Linked DNA regions of Homo sapiens: region 2 is linked to region 1. The links come from fine-mapping of genetic effects on gene expression. Tissue or cell type: whole blood. Region 1 holds a variant in brackets; the other region holds the start of a gene. All regions are shown on one strand. Distances are between the middles of the regions.

Region 1 (8,258 bases):
TTAGAAGTGGGGCAAAAATTCCAGTGGGTGGGATTTTTGTTTTATGAAGCCAACTCCTGCCTACAACACTGTTCACCCATCTAGAGATGTCACTCTGCAGACACATCCCTGGCCCTGCCCTGGCCAAACACTCACCTGCTGTCTGGATGACAGAGGCGATCCAGTACACCCGGCTGGGGAGCACAGCATCACTGTTGAGCACCTCCACCTTCATCCCTTTCATCACATCCTCCCACTGGTCATAGAGTGGGACCTGTGTGGCGATGAGAGTGTACCGAGAGAGTGAGCTAACTGTGCTAGCAGGGGAGACAGACTGCCTCACGGCCTCAGTCAAGTCCTCGTTTGCACCTCAACTTTTCACATCACCCACTGTGTGCAGAACCAGCTACTAGAGATAAAGAGATGAGGTCTCCTGTCCTTGAAGAGCTAAGCCGGGAGTAGAGGTGGAGGTGGTGGGATGCAGGGTGATGGCTAGAGACCCAGAGTCAGACAGAACCGAGTCCTAAAATCTTTATAGGACTGGTTTCTTACTGTATCATTTTGGGCACATGATGCCTTGGTGAGCCTCGATCCCTTCGTCCCTGTGCCAGCCCGAGCAATGGCAGGGCGCTGATATTAGCACAAATATACTTTCCTTCAATCATCATACAAACCTGGGCTGTGGGCATTATGACCCCCTTGTTTACACACAGCCATCCACCTGCAAGTTTACTCTCTACCTCCCCTCCTACTGAAATGCTCCAGGGGGCCAGGCATGGTGGCTCACGCCTGTAATCCCAGCACTTTGGGAGGCCGAGACGGGCGGATCACCTGAGGCTGGGAGTTCGAGACCAGCCTGACCAACATGGAGAATCCATGTCTCTACTAAAAATACAAAATTAGCCGGGCGTGGTGGTGGCACATGCCTGTAATCCCAGCTACTCCGGAGGCTGAGGCAGGAGAATCGCTTGAACCTGGGAGGGGGAGGCTGCTGTGAGCTGAGATAGTGCCATTGCACTCCAGCTCTGGGCAACAAGAGTGAAACTCCCATATCGAAAAAATAAATAAAATAAAATAAAGTGCCCCAGGACAGCACTGGACTGTTTCAGTTGCCTTCCCAGTACCTAATCCTCACTTTCCTGCCAATGGTACTTTTGATTCTCCTTTGGGAGAATCACTTTTTTTAGAGTCTTGCTCCGTCACCCAGGCTGGAGTGCAGTGGCGCAATCTCAGCTCATTACAACCTCCGCCTCTCAGGTTCAAGGGATTCTCCTGTCTCGGCCTCCCAAGTAGCTGGGATTACAGGTGCCTGCCACCACTTCCAGCTAATTTTTGTATTTTTAGTAGAGATGGGGTTTCACCATGTTGGCCAGGCTGGTCTCGAACTCCTCACCTCAGGTGATCCACCCGCCTCGGCCTCCCAAAGTGCTGGGATTATAGGGGTAAGCCACTGCGCCTGGCCAAATTCACCTTTTTTATTCTCAGCCCTGGCTTCAGCCAGTTGAGGTATCCCATTCCATCTCCCTGGTCACTTGAGTTTAGTTCATCACAGAACCCGGACACAGTTGCGCTAGCCCAGGCACGCAGGGGCAGGCTTTTTACAAAGCAAATTGGATTATATGTGTTAGACACAAGGATGATGCAACTCCCTGGAAATGAAAATGCTGAAACTATTAGAGAATTCAGGGCAAAAAAGAGGCTCCCCCTCCAGCAGGAAGGAGGTGCACCTTCATTAGCCATTCAGAGACGAGAGGAGTGAGTTAGCTGAGTCAAGAAGCAGCTGTCATTGTTCAGGGCACTCCCCAGAGTTCAGTGGCAGTTCTGAAAGGAGGAGAGGAAGTGGCTTACTCTGGGTAAAAGACTCCCTACTTCCTCAAGACTAAAGAGGCCTCCTCCTGGATTTCCCGGAGCTTAGGGACGTGGTGTGAAGACAAAACAAGAGTGCTGTTGTGGGCTCTGCTCTCCCGGCCTGCAGGCTCCACACGTCACAGCTGCTGGATATTCGGTTCTTGCGCTCAAGCCCCGCCCCTAAGGGCCTTGCCCTTCGTTCTGGCTTTTACATGATCCGCATCGAGGAGCCTTTTACAGAAGTGGCTCCAGGAGCATCCACATCTGCCTCTCGGGGCCCACGGGGCCCAGGCCAGCTACAGAAGCACCCTGCTTTCCATGGGAAAATGCTGCAAATGGGGGAGAAAGGAGAGAAGGGTTTCAGACTGCAAAGACCCTTCGACATCAGCTAGCACCAAGTTCCATCATGTAAATAAACTGAAGGGCTTCAGACCGGGAGTGAAGCCAAGCAGGTGATAGAAGTGTTTGTAGGAGGATTTTTTTGACATAAACATGAAATGGAGCGAGTGGTAACGCCATCCGTCTCCTGCCCAGACCTCCCCACTGTCACTGTCCAGCCTGAAGCCGCCCTGGTGAAGCAGGTGGAGGAGCAGCTCCAGGCCCGGCTCCCCGGCCTCCCTCCCTCAGCTCCAGGGCACTCACGTGCTTGAAACAGCTGACGGGAGCAGCCTTGTAACTGTGATCCTTCAGGAACTTCCCCCAGTCGAAGCCCAAGACCAGAGCTGCAGAGCAGAGAGGACGAGTCAGACTAGGAGCCTGCGCAGCAGCCACTCCAGGAGCCTGGACCCCAAGGGCCCTGTGGGACCTGCAGAGGTAGGTCCCCCACCCCCAGCAGCCCCTCTCACAGCGCTGCCCACGACACCCTCCTTCACTCCCATACCTGATCCACCAGTGGCCATGAGGGACCACTGTTGAGGACTGAATTGAAAGGTGGCAAGACTCTCAGGAGTAGAGGAACATTCAAAGGGAAATTTCTCGCCCTTCTTCCCCCAAAGGGGAAAACTGAAATATCCCTGGGCTTAAATTCCTCCCTCCGCCCTGAACCTGATTGGCCACACCCAATCTAAATGTGGGGGAGGGGGTGCGCACACACCAGGGCCCCTCCAACTGAGCTCCGGCCTGCTGAGCTCAATTTCAGTTAGAAACTCAGAACAATGATAGCAGAGTTGCTTTATGCATACATTTAACTTGCTTAGCAATTGCTACACACTCAGAGAGAGGCTCCTTTCCTTATCCCACCACCCCTCTCCAAACCTGCCTTCAAACCATATCTGGGCCTTCGTTGCCCCAGGGAAACAGAAACCAAAAGGATAAAAGCAAAGAGAAACAAAAACAGCCAATTCTTGGCTTTTGAATTATCATGGGTAGGAGTCCTGATAATTTAAGGGTGTTTGAAGGCATTTTTCTGGGTAATTTCCACAATACCCAACAGGTGAGGAAGATGCAATCCGCAGTGACCCTGACTTAGGGCACTTTCTACCTGGCCGGTTTGCCCAGTCTTCATTCCTAGGAAAGGCCACCCCAAACCCAGTCTCCTCCCCAGCCACGGCAGCTTCCTAAGCAGGGCCCTCTGCTATCTTACCGTCTTGTCCTGTTGGTGTCCCATCTGCCAGCTGTCCTGTCCCTTGAGAGTGGAGGAAGGCTCCAATTTTGGCAGACCAGGCAGCCTTGTGCAGGACTTTGGCTTTTTTGGTCGGTGGTTTTCCCTGGAGAGGAGGACAGAGGCTATGTGTAGCCTGGCGGCTGGGATCATGAGTCTGGATTTGGGCCGCCAAGTTGAAGTCCTGGGCTTGGGCCAGTGACTTAACCTCTTTTGGGCTTCAGTTTCTTCATGTGTGAAACAGTGATGACAATAACAATCCTGAGCTCAGGGGGTGGTTGTGGGGAAGCGTCGGGGGTGCTAGGGGGTGCTAGGCAGTGCTGCAGAGCAGGGAGAGACCCATGTTCTATCTTTTAAGCCTTTCTGTCCTCCCAGATTCAAGTCTCAGTCATCTCCTTCCTCCAGTGTCGCTACTGATAGATCCAAAGCAAAGAATGGGCCTCACAGGGGCCCAGAAACGCTCATGAACTGGGAGGCAACCTTCTGTACATACGCGAATGTTTGGGAGAGGGTCCACATAGGCGAATGTTCGGGAGAGGGTCCACATAGGCGAATGTTCGGGAGAGGGTCCACATAGGCGAATGTTCGGGAGAGGGTCCACATAGGCGAATGTTTGGGAGAGGACCCACAGCTTTCATTAGGTACTCAAAGGGGGTCCTCCCTTTCCAAAGGGAATGGCCACTGATCTGGTCTGTATTTTGTAACTTAAGTACTGAACAGGAAGGCCAGGAATTTACTAAAGAGATCAGTGAAGCAGAAATCTGGGTTTAAGTCCCAAACAAACCTACAGGGCAAATCCCAGTTCTACAGTTTTTAGTTGTATACCTTTAAGTAAGTTACTAAAATTTCTGAGCCTTTATAAAAAGGAATTTTTTTAAAAATCAAATTTTTTAAGATCGTTAATTGGACTGAGAATGTCAAGCCCTTAGCAAGTACTCCCAAACCATAGCTATTAATATTACCAATATTATTCTTAGCTCTCGGAAGAGAGGGATCTTTCGGTGCCTTAAGTAAAATCTACAAAATGGGGAAACAATGGTAATTGTCTCACAAAGGCGACAGTGTATGAAGCAGTAAGCAGAAGGATCTGGGACACAGCAATTTCTAATAAACATCGGTGGTGCTCAAACTTCGCTGCACATTAGGATCACCTGGGAGCTCTTCCAATCTCTGTCCAGGCTACACACCATCCCAGTTAAATCAGAACCTTTCGGAGTAGGACCCAAGCATCAATATATTTTACATAATATTTTCCCCCCAGGCTGGAGTGCAGTGGCACGATCTCGGCTCACTGCAACCTCCACCTCCCAAGTTCAAGCGATTCTCCTGCCTCAGCCTCCC[G/A]AGTAACTGGGACTACAGGCGTACAACACCACGCCTGGCTAATTTTTGTATTTTTAGTAGAGACGGGGTTTCATCATGTTGGCTGGGATGGTCTCGATCTCCTGACCTCGTGATCCGCCCGCCTCGGTCTCCCAAAGTGCTGGGATTACAGGCGTGAGCCACCGTGCCCGACCAGCATCAATAATTTTTAAACTTTCCAGGTGATCCCAACATGCAGGCAAATTTGGGAAGCAGTGTTGCAGATGCTGGTCCCAGCTACTGGGAAACAAGGTAAGATGAGGCCCCTGAGATGAGGTTCCAGCCTCAATTCCGCCATTCTCCTCCTACAGAGCCACACTAGGTATGTCATTCTACCTCCTTGGACCTCAGTATACTTATCAATAAATGTGTGGGTTCAACACCACATCCAAGAATCTTTCCATCTCTAAAGATTCTATAAATATCAGTAATTTAGAAAATTGGCAAGACTTTCTAGGTAGCTGCCTGTGACATGGAGTCCGAGGAGGCATGGTCTTCCTGAAGCCACCGTGGCTGGTGAACCTTGGGCCTGTTTCCCAACTTCCTTTGAAAGGATTTATAAAAGTGTGGGGTGAAGACCAAGGGTGTCAGACTCCCCCATAGTTCTTGTTTAAAATGTACTGAATACACCAGACTCTGGGGGATGATGGTAGGTAATGGAGCGTAGCTTCAGGAACCTATAATTTAAAAAGCTCCACAAATGGATTCTACTGTCCTCTGAAGTTTGAGAACATAATAAATACCAGCTGGCCACAAGCAAGGACCTTTTCAAACTTTCCTGGCCCTGGCCTTCAGTCACTTGGTGGTTCCTGTCTCAGCACCAAAGGCACCGGGAAGGATCCAAGTGATTGCCTCTCACCTGTAACCTAGCCAAGATACTGGCTTTCTTGGAGTTGGAGGAGTAGCTCCTGGAGCAGGAGACGCTGCAGAACCTCTTGGTCTTGGAGAAGAAGGCTTCCCTTGTACCCACGATACCACACATCTCACAGACAGCTGGGAAGAGAACTTAGCACATGACTCACCCGATATGACCACCTCAAAGCAAACAAAGTGATGGGCCCTTCAAAACCTGGGGCACTGCATTAACCAGGTGAGCCCCTGCCCCCACAAAGGCTAATGGAATAAGAGGAGGAATGGGAGGTACTGGTGTGTATATCCTGAATCTACCTGAATGAAGTGCTGCTGCTTGGCCTCCCTTGGCTACAGATGTCAACAGAGGGGCTAATGGAAATCCATGAGGACGACTGGGGGAACAGGTGAGTGTTGAAAAGTTTGTCAGAGGAAAGTGAGAAGAAACTAGGCATGGTAGCTCCTGTCTGTAATCCCGGCAGTTTGGGAGGCCAAGGAGGGAGGATTGCTTGAGGGCAAGAATTTGAGACCATCCTGGGCAACATAGCAAGACCTTGTTGCCCAAAAAAAAAAAAAAAAGGCCAGGTGTGATTTGGCGGGGGGAAACTGCCTGAGCCCAGGAGGCTGAGGCTGCAGTGAGCCATGACTGCACCACTGTACCTCTAGCCTGGGCAACAAAGTAAGACACTGTCTCAAAAAAAAGCGAAAAAATTTATAGGAAGAAAAAGTGCCAAAGTCACTTAACCTCTGTGGCTCTATTTTCTCATCTATATAGTAAAGGGACTGAACTAGATCAGTGTTTTATTTATTTATTTTTGAGACGGAGCCTTGCTCTGTCACCCAGCCTGGAGTAGTACACTGGCGCAATCTTGGCTCACTGCAAGCTCTGCCTCCCGGGTTCACGCCATTCTCCTGCATCAGCCTCCCGAGTAGCTGGGACTACAGGCACTGCCACCACACCCAGCTAATTTTTTTGTGTTTTTAGTAGAGACGGGGTTTCACCATGTTAGCCAGGATGGTCTCAATCTCCTGACCTTGTGATCCGCCGTGTCGGCCTCCCAAAGTGTTGGGATTACAGGCGTGAGCCAATGCGCCCAGCTAGATCAGTGTTTTAATCGTGACTTCACTTTTTTTTTTTTTTGAGATGGAGTTTTGCTCTTGTTGCCCAGGATGGAGTGCAGTGGCGCCATCTTGGCTCATTGCAACCTTCGACTCCCGGGTTCAAGGGATTCTCCTGCCTCAGCCTCTTGAGTAGCTGGGACTACAGGCATGTGCCACCACGCCTGGCTAATTTTTTATATCTTTAGTAGAGACGGGGTTTCGCCATGTTGAGCAGGCTGGTCTTGAACTCCTGACCTTGTGATCCTCCCGCCTCGGCCTCCCAAAGTGCTGGGATTACAGGCGTGAGCCACCATGCCTGGCCCGTGACTTCACTATTAGACCCACCTGGGGAGCTTTTAAAAATGCCTGAGATGGCCGGGCGCGGTGGTGGGCGTCTATAATCCCAGCTACTCCGGAGGCTGGGGCAGGAGAATCCCTTCAACCTGGGAGGCGGAGGTTGCAGTGAGCTGAGATGGCACCACTGCACTCCAGCCTGGGCAACAAGAGTGAAACGCTGTCTCAAAAAAAAAAAAAAAAAAGCCTGAACCTAAAATTCTAATGAATTGGTCTGTGACGGGATACTGGTACCTGTAGTTTGTTAAAAGCTCCCCTAGATGATTCTAATGTGCAGAACCCCTGGTCTAAGTGGTCTCTAATGGTTCCTTCTAGTTCTAAATCCTAAGATTCTAAGAGAAGGGCTGGAAGAGGATAGAAGGGAGAAAGATAAAAGGCAAGGGATGAAAAGAAGACAATATAAATAGAAAGGAAGTAAGGCCGGGAGCGGTGGCTCACGCCTGCAATCCCAGCACTTTGGGAGGCTGAGGCGGGCGGATCACGTAGTCAGGAGATTGAGACCATCCTGGCTAACACGGTGAAACCCCGTCTCTACTAAAAAATACAAAAAATTAGCCGGGCATGGCGGAGGGCGCCTGTAGTCCCAGCTACTTGGGAGGCTGAGGCAGGAGAATGGCGTGAACCCGGGAGGCGGAGCTTGCAGTGAGCCAAGATCGTGCCACTGCGTTCCGGCCTGGGTGACACAGCGAGACTCTGTTTCAAAAAAAAAAAAAAAAAAAAAAAAAGGCCGGGTGCGGTGGCTCACGCCTGTAATCCCAGCATTTTTGGAGGCCGAGGAGGGCAGATCACAAGGTCAGGAGATCGAGACCATCCTGGCTAACATGGTGAAACCCCGTCTCTACTAAAATACAAAAAAAATTAGCCGGGTGTGGTGGCAGGCGCCTGTAGTCCCAGCTGCTGGGGAGGCTGAGGCAGGAGAATGGCTTGAACCTGGGAGGCGGAACTTGCAGTGAGCCAAGATCATGTCACTGCATTCCAGCCTGGGTGACAGAGCAAGACTCCGTCTCAAAAAAAAAAAAAAAAAGGAAATAAGATTCAACTGCAAAGAGTATTAGATTACTCTTCTAACGAGTTTGGGGCTGGGTGCGGTGGCTCATGCCTGTAATCCTAGCACTTTGGGAGGCTGAGGTGGGGGATCACTTGAGCTTGGGAGTTCAAGACCAGCCTG
Region 2 (8,000 bases), 710 kb before region 1:
GCAGAGGCTGCAGTGAGCCGAGATCACGCCACTGCACTCCAGCCTGGGTGACAGAGCCAGACTCCGTCTCAAAAAAAAAAGGGACGCGGTGGCTCACGTCTGTAATCCCATCACTTTGGGAGGGCGAGGCGGGCAGATCTCGAGGTGAGGAGATCAAGACCATCCTGGCTAACGGTGAAACCCCGTCTCTACTAAAAATACAAAAAATTTGCCGGGCATGGTGGCGGGCGCCTGTAGTCCCAGCTACTCGGGAGGCTGAGGCAGGAGAATGGCGTGAACCTGGGAGGCGGAGCTTGCAGTGAGCGGAGATTGCGCCACTGCACTCCAGCCTGGGCGACAGAGAGAGACTCCGTCTCAAAAAAAAAAAAAAAAAAAAAAAAAAGCCACGGGGAAATAAGAATACATTGAGGAGTAAACTAACATTCCCCACATTGGTCTGATTGTGAATTCTTCTTAACTGTTTTGTCATCCAAGTAGCGACACAGGGCCTGCTGCAGCCCCCCACCCCCACCCCATTTAGGAGGCCCAAGTGGAAAGGTTCATGTGAGGCCAGGCACCTGCACACAACACAGACACGAATCCCGCAGGCCTTTTGTCCCGGCACCTGGCCCAGCACATAGGGAGCGCCCAGCAAACATTTGTGTCACATGAGTGGGTGTCTCATTTGTGTCTGCTGCTCTTAGCAGCTGGCCTCCCTCTCTGGCCAAGGTAAGGGACCCTGGAACTCTGACAGTGGGCTCCAGCCCTCCCACTCTCTCTGGCCTTGAGAGCAGTCTCCTCGAGTCTCTGCTGGGGGTCAGAGCAGCCAGTGCTTCTGCTGTGAAACGCAGACCTGGGGCAGGCGGACCCCCTCCTCCTAACTCCTGTAAATTCTCCCGACTCTGGCCTCACTGGGCCACCCTCTCCAGGGACAGGTTCCCCGTTCCTGGGTTCCCACAAGCCTCAGTCTGCCCACATGGCTGGCACAAGGGCTAAATGAGCTGCCTGGTACTCAGTCAGGCCTCTGCAGCCCTCACTAATGGGTAATACCAGCACCAACATGGATGGACGTGTATGTGGGTGGCAGGGTTATGGCTCAGTCTTCTGGCTTTGTCCCCACCTCTCTGCCTCACAGAGAGGCCTTCCCTGCCCTGGCTCCCCTCCAGGGTCCTGTCCCCCATCCCTGTACCGTACACCCACGCTCACCCACACCTGCCCCCACCCCCACATCACCATACACCCACGCTCACCCACACCTGCCCCCAGCCCCACTTCTCCTTTGCAGCTCCCCTCCGCCCACACCTTCCTGCCTGGGAGCTGCTGGCCCATGTACAGGGGATGGAGAGGGTGGGCCAGCGCCCACCAGTCAGGGCTGGCTGACTGGGGTTCTTTGTGAACCTTCAGGGTCTCCCAAGCTGGAAACCTGGGGGTCGGCCTTGCTCCCCTCACTCCATGGCCAGCCGCTGCATCATCCCCTGCCCTGGGCCACCTGCCCTGGACGTGGGCCACAGTGCCAGAGAGAGGGACCCTTGCAGGTACAGCTCAGAATCTCCCTCCTACCCAGACACCCCCAGGTTCTGTACTGCCCCGGGACTGGTGCCCTGCCCATCCGCAGCCCGGATGCTCCCTCCTCCCTCCCAGCATCCCCTGTGGCAGTGGCCATGCCTGCCCCCAGAGCAGCTCAGGCTCCCCTTTCATCTCTCCAAGCCTTAGCCCCTGCAGCCCTCCGCCTGGAGTGTTTGCCTCCCCCTCGCTGCTGCTCAGGGTCTCCCTCTGCCCCCAGGCTCCCTCCCCAGCCCCTGAGTTTCTCCTCTCACTGTGCTTCCCCAGCCCTGAGTGCTTAGGGGTCTGGGTGGCATGTGTGGCATTTAACCCCATGCTCTCTGCTGAGCCCTGAGCTCCCAGAGTTCCCTCCAGCCCTGGCCCTGGGGAGGGGGTAGCATGTGACCAGGAGGGCGGAGGGGCTTGTGTGTGTTTCTGAGACGCAGTCTGAGAGAGACACGGGTGACAGACAGTTGGGGACCCCAAACACTGGGGAGCAGAGATAGACAGGAGGGGCCCGCAGTGAGACACAGAGGTGAGCAGGAGAGGACACATAGCCCTGGAGAAAAGGAGCAGGTGTGGGCGGGCTTCCCTCCACTGCAGTCACAGTTCCCTCACTCATAGGCAGATCTTCCTGGGTCCTCCCTGCACAAAGCCCCAGTGGCTCCCTCGTGTCCCCCAGCCACAGTCCAAGCTCCCTAATGTGCTAGATAAGGCCCCAGTCCAGCCTTTCGGTCCCAGCACTCCCTGGACTTCCTGTTTGGGCCTCCAAGCCTTTGCTCCCCTTTGGCCTTCACCCCCATCTGCTCCCTAGACCTCAGTCCATCTGGCAAACACTTCACCATCGCCCTCTCCATGAAGCCTTCCGGCCCACCTTCCAGGATGACGTGAGCTGGTGCCCTTGCTGCGAGGCTGTCTTCCCCCATCAGCACAAGTGTGAGATTCCCTCAGGGCAGACCCACATGCTACTTGGGCCTGGTACAAGTGTCTGATGTCAGGCTGGGCACTGTGGCTTCACACCTATAATCCCAGCACTTTGGGAGGCCGAGGAGGGCGGATCACCTGAGGTCAGGAGTTCGAGACCAGCCTGGCCAAATGGTGAAACCCCACCTCTACTAAAAATACAAAAATTAGCCGGGCATGGTGGTGCATGCCTGTAATCCCAGTTACTCGGGAGGCTGAGGCAGGAGAATCGCTTGAATCTGGGAGGCAGAGGTTGCAGTGAGCCGAGATTGCACCACTGCACAGAGCCAGACTCTTTTTCAAAAAAAAAAAAAAAAAAAGCAGGTGTCTGATATCCCCAACCAGCTCTGTCCAGGAAGGGCAGGAAGAGAGGAGGAGACAGGTGGGTTGGGGGAGATGGCAGGGGAGCACTCGGGGTCATGGAGAGGCTTTGGCTAGACGGAGCAGAGGAACCACTCAGGGTCTGTGTCCTGGCTGCGGGGTCCATCCCCCTCCCTACCCAAGAGGAGGCTCTGGTCTGCCCCCAGACACCTCCCAGCACCCAGCAGAGGGCCCACCCAGGCGGTGCTGGTTGAGGGGCTGAATTGGGGAACCACAGGTAGAAAGAGAGGCCAGGCCGGGTGCGGTGGCTCACGCCTGTAATCCTAGCACTTTGGGAGGCCGAGGCAGGTGGATCACGAGGTCAGGAGTTCAAAACCAGTCTGACCAAGATGGTGAAACCCCGTCTCTACTAAAAATACAAAAATTAGCCGGGCGTGGCAGTGGGCGCCTACAATCTCAGCTACTCGGGAGGCTGAGGCAGAGAATTGTTTGAACCCGGGAGGCAGAGCTTGCAGTGAGCCGAGATAGCGCCATTGCACTCCAGCCTGGGCGACAGAGCGAGACTCCGTCTCAAAAAAAAAAAAAGAAAAGAAAGGGGGGCCCCAGGCGAGCTCGGTCCCACCCAGCAGGCGGGGGCGGGGCAGGGCAGAGTGCTCCCCCCGCCCCCCGCTTCCTCCCCGAGGGCCCCGGAGCCCAGCTCAGCCTCAGTCCCCGCAGCTTGTGCGGCGGCGTCGGCACCATGAGGCGAGGGCCCCGGAGCCTGCGGGGCAGGGACGCGCCAGCCCCCACGCCCTGCGTCCCGGCCGAGTGCTTCGACCTGCTGGTCCGCCACTGCGTGGCCTGCGGGCTCCTGCGCACGCCGCGGCCGAAACCGGGTAAGGGGGACCCACGGGGCGCGCGGCGCCGGCAGCTGCGGGGAGAACGGGGCCCCGATCGCCAGGGCGCAGGCAGAGCCCCGACCCCCGGGGGCGCCGAGGGCTGAAAGGACCCTGTGGGCAGGGCCTGGAGGGGCCCGCGATCACCGCGTGGCCCTCACCGCCGCCTCTCTCCCTCCCCTTGTCCACCGCCCCCCGGCTGTCCCTCCCCTCCCCGGCCAGCCTCGCCCCCCTCCGCCCCTCCCCGTCCCCGCTCCTCCCTCCCCTCGGCCCCCTGGCCTCCCTCCCTGTCCCCTCCCGAAGCAGCCGGGGCCAGCAGCCCTGCGCCCAGGACGGCGCTGCAGCCGCAGGAGTCGGTGGGCGCGGGGGCCGGCGAGGCGGCGCTGCCCCTGCCCGGGCTGCTCTTTGGCGCCCCCGCGCTGCTGGGCCTGGCACTGGTCCTGGCGCTGGTCCTGGTGGGTCTGGTGAGCTGGAGGCGGCGACAGCGGCGGCTTCGCGGCGCGTCCTCCGCAGAGGCCCCCGACGGAGACAAGGACGGTGAGTTCCGTGTGTAGGGGAACCAGTCTGAGCGGGGCGCAGGGGCTGGGGTGTCGGGACGGTCTAGGGGGAGATGCATGGCCCCTGAGGGGGAGAGAAGGGCTTTAAGGGGAAACGGAGACAGAGTGGAAAAGAGTTTGCGCTGAGGAGCTCAGGCTGGGGAGGGAGACATAGTCCTGCCCCTGAGACCCTGGTCGGAGCCAGGAACAGCTCTGCCCTGACAGACCCCAGTGTGAGGAAGAGACAGGTTGCAGGAAGGGGGCCCCGTCTGAGGGAGGAGTCTGTCCTGCCCTTTGGGAGTCTAACGGAGCTTGGTTCCCCCATAAATCCCTGAAGAGTTTGCCAGACTGAGCCCCAGCTCCCCAACTCCCTGCCCTGCCAGCTCCCCACTGGCCAGGCCTCTGGACTCAGGGTCAGCCAGGTGCCACCCCTCCCCACCCTGCATTGGGCTTCATTTGACGGAGGACTGCCCCTCCAGAGGAGTCTTCTAGGGGAGGGAGGGAAGGCTGTGACTGAGTACGGAGCCTCTACCCCCTCTGCCTGCAGCCCCAGAGCCCCTGGACAAGGTCATCATTCTGTCTCCGGGAATCTCTGATGCCACAGCTCCTGCCTGGCCTCCTCCTGGGGAAGACCCAGGAACCACCCCACCTGGCCACAGTGTCCCTGTGCCAGCCACAGAGCTGGGCTCCACTGAACTGGTGACCACCAAGACGGCCGGCCCTGAGCAACAATAGCAGGGAGCCGGCAGGAGGTGGCCCCTGCCCTCCCTCTGGACCCCCAGCCAGGGGCTTGGAAATCAAATTCAGCTCTTCACTCCAGCATGCACATGCCCTCTTTCTGGGACCAGGCTAACTCTGCAGAAGCACAGACACTACAGACCACAGCATTCAGCCCCCATGGAGTTTGGTGTGCTTGCCTTTGGCTTCAGACCTCACCATCTTTGACAGCCCTTGAAGGTGGTAGCCCAGCTCCTGTTCCTGTGCCTTCAAAAGGCTGGGGCACTATGAGTAAAAGACCGCTTTTAAAATGGGGAAGGCACCATTAAGCCAAAATGAATCTGAAAAAAGACCAAGTGGGAGGATGCCTAATTTGTAGTTGGGTGGTTTTTTGTGTTTGTTTGATTTTTTTTTTTTTTTTTTTTTTTTTTTTTTGAGACGAGTCTTGCTCTGTCGCCAGGCTGGAGTACAGTGGCGCGATCTCGCCTCACTGTAACCTCCGACTCCTTGGTTCAAGTGATTCTCCTGCCTCAGCCTCCCGAATAGCTGGGATTACAGGCACGCACCACCACAGCCAGCTAATTTTTGTATTTTTAGTAGAGACGGGATTTCACCATGTTGGCCAGGATGGTCTCGATCTCCTGACCTCGTGATCCGCCCTGCTCGGCCTCCCAAAGTGCTGGGATTACAGGCATGAGCCACCATGCCCGGCCTTGTTTTGTGTTTTGGTTTTTTTTGAGACAGGGTCTTGCTGTATCACGCAGGCTGGAGTGCAACGATGGGTCCCCAGCTAATTGCAGCCTGGGCTCAAGCAATCTTTCTGCTTCAGCCTCCTGAGTAGGTGGGACTACAGGTGCTCCACCTTGCCCAGCTAATTTTTTTTTTTTTTTTTTTTTTGAGACAGAGTCTCGCTCTGTCGCCTAGGCTGGAGTGCAGTGACGCAATTTCGGCTCACTTCAAGCTCCGCCTCCTGGGTTCACACCATTCTCCTGCCTGAGCCTCCTGAGTAGCTGGGACTATAGGCGCCCGCCATCACGCCCGGCTAATTTTTTTTGTATTTTTAGTAGAGACGGGGTGTCACCGTATTAGCCAGGATGGTCTCGATCTCCTGACCTCGTGATCCGCCCGCCTCAGCCTCCCAAAGTGCTAGGATTACAGGCGTGAGCCACCGTGGCTGGCCTTTTTTTTTTTTTAAAGACAGGGTCTCGGTATGTTGCCCAGGCCAGTCTCAAACTCCTGGCCTCAGGCAGTCCTCCCCGAAGGGCTGGGATTATAGGCAGGAGGCGCCGGGCCTGGCCTCTATTTCTTTAATACCTGCCCTCAGAGCCGTCCTGCTTTTAAACTGATGCAAATGGCAGCAGTGAATAATCAATTCATGGGTTCGCTTGCTTTGGGATTTAGTACAAGATTATTTTAAGAAATAACAAAGGAGAAAAGATTGAGCTGGATTTTGCTGATTCTCAGGTATCTGTACCCCAGGGTCAACCCTGAGATTGGCCCAATCTGCCAGAACCTAAGATGCCATTTTGACCCCAGTGGCAGCTTCCAGAGCCACAAGCCTGCATTTGGGAGGAGGTGCGCAGCCTCCAGGGCTGGACTCCAAACTCGAGCTGAAGGAACATGCTGGCAGGTAGCTCTCTCAGGGTCCACCTGGGGTTCCAGCTGCTCCAAGACACAGCACATTTAGCCATAAACATGGAAGGGCTGGGACCTACAGGAGGCTCCTTTGTGTAGAGGCCAGGGCAGGCGTGTGACCTTGAACCAGGTGGACATGAGGTCCCTTGAACTCCCTTCTCTCTCTGGCTTGTTCCCCTGAAGCACTGGCCCCCCAGTGCTGGGCTTATTTGGCCATCCTGTGCCAGCCCCCTGGTCACCCACCGTCACAGTGGAAGCTGCTCCCTCCTCTTACAATGGTGTTCCTTGCTCTGGGGTCTGGGGACAAGACCATCTCTTTCCACTCCTGGACGACACTGTGCACTCAGTCAGCCGCCTCCTACCTGCCCTCCTGCACAGGGTCAGAACCTCCTGACCTGGACTTCGCCCTGGGCAGCTTCCTTGGAACTTGTTGCAGCTTAGCATCTTTGGAAGGGAGCACTGGACTAGGAGTCAGAAGGTGGAGTTCTGGGTGCTGTTTTCCCACTCTTGGGCCCTGGGCATGTTCTGTTCTGTGCATCAGATGTTTTCTGCCTGCCTCCCCCTGAGCTGCCACCAGAGCCACCTGTAGACCCCTGCTTCTCCTGCCCCTCCTGTCCCTTGCCAGGCCTCTGGACTCAGTGCTTCCTGTCCCAAGGACCTGTTGTGTGCCCAGCTTGGAAGACAGTGGCCACTCACATCCAGGTCTCTGCCTGGCTATTTGCTCCATGAACCCATCTCAGATGCCCCTGCCCCCAGGGAGCCAGGTGACAGGGTGAGGTCAAGTGACAAGCAGTAGGTGTGGGAGAGGTTTGGTGGGGTCAGGCCCACATGGGCCCAGCCATCCACTCCCCTTCCATCTGGAGTTGGGGGAGTCTGAGCTGCTCCTGGCCACCCCATCTGCCCCACCCCATCTTTTCCTGGCCACCCCAGCTCCCACCCCATCTTCTCCTGGCCACCCCATCTCCCACCCCATCTTCTCTTGACACCCCATCTCCCACCCCATCTTCTCCTGGCCACCCCATCTCCCACCCCATCTTCTCCTGGCCACCCCATCTTCTCCTGGCCACCCCATCTCCCCCACCCCATCTTCTCCTGGACACCCCCATCTCCCACCCCATCTTTTGCTACAGCCAGGGTTAGCTCAGCAGGTGAAAACCCCGAGGGTGGGTGAAACCCCTCTGGGGCTCAGACATGCAAACCTTGGGCATCTCTCTGTCCCAGCTGGCCCCGCCAGCCGGTAGGAAGTTTCCCCTGAGTTCTCAGTTTTTTCTTCTGAAAAATGAGGGGTTGTATGCAAGGTTCTCCTCCTGGCCTGTGGTCCCCAGAGAAGGGCAGGAAGGAACCTTAGATAATTCTCATATGCATTTAACAGACGAGGAAACTGAGACCCAGAGCCGTCACATCAATACCTCATTTGATCTTCATAAGAGCA

What was found. PIP is the estimated chance that this variant, and not a neighbour inherited with it, causes the effect.
Region 2: TNFRSF13C starts here. The variant in region 1 is fine-mapped to the expression of TNFRSF13C in whole blood (INTERVAL, PIP 0.95).

What each region holds. Positions count from the first base shown.
Region 1 is chr22:41,211,414-41,219,671 of GRCh38, reverse strand. L3MBTL2 (L3MBTL histone methyl-lysine binding protein 2) reads right to left here. Exons shown (of 17, transcript NM_031488.5): 3 at 5,646-5,779; 4 at 3,410-3,533; 5 at 2,470-2,549; 6 at 136-253. L3MBTL2-AS1 (L3MBTL2 antisense RNA 1) reads left to right here and starts at 2,045. Exons shown (of 3, transcript NR_148200.1): 1 at 2,045-2,640; 2 at 4,969-6,042. RefSeq lists enhancers at 477-1,173, 1,174-1,871. The variant G/A (reference allele first, on the strand shown) is at 4,769.
Region 2 is chr22:41,922,318-41,930,317 of GRCh38, reverse strand. It overlaps TNFRSF13C (TNF receptor superfamily member 13C), which reads left to right and starts at 3,512. Exons shown (of 3, transcript NM_052945.4): 1 at 3,512-3,680; 2 at 3,987-4,217; 3 at 4,764-8,000. The coding sequence starts at 3,545. The coding sequence ends at 4,951. It overlaps MIR378I (microRNA 378i), which reads left to right and starts at 7,021; the gene lies at 7,021-7,096. It also overlaps a transcript of CENPM not described here. RefSeq lists enhancers at 293-902, 903-1,513, 1,657-1,726, 4,284-4,783, 4,784-5,285 and 1 more and a silencer at 3,452-4,191.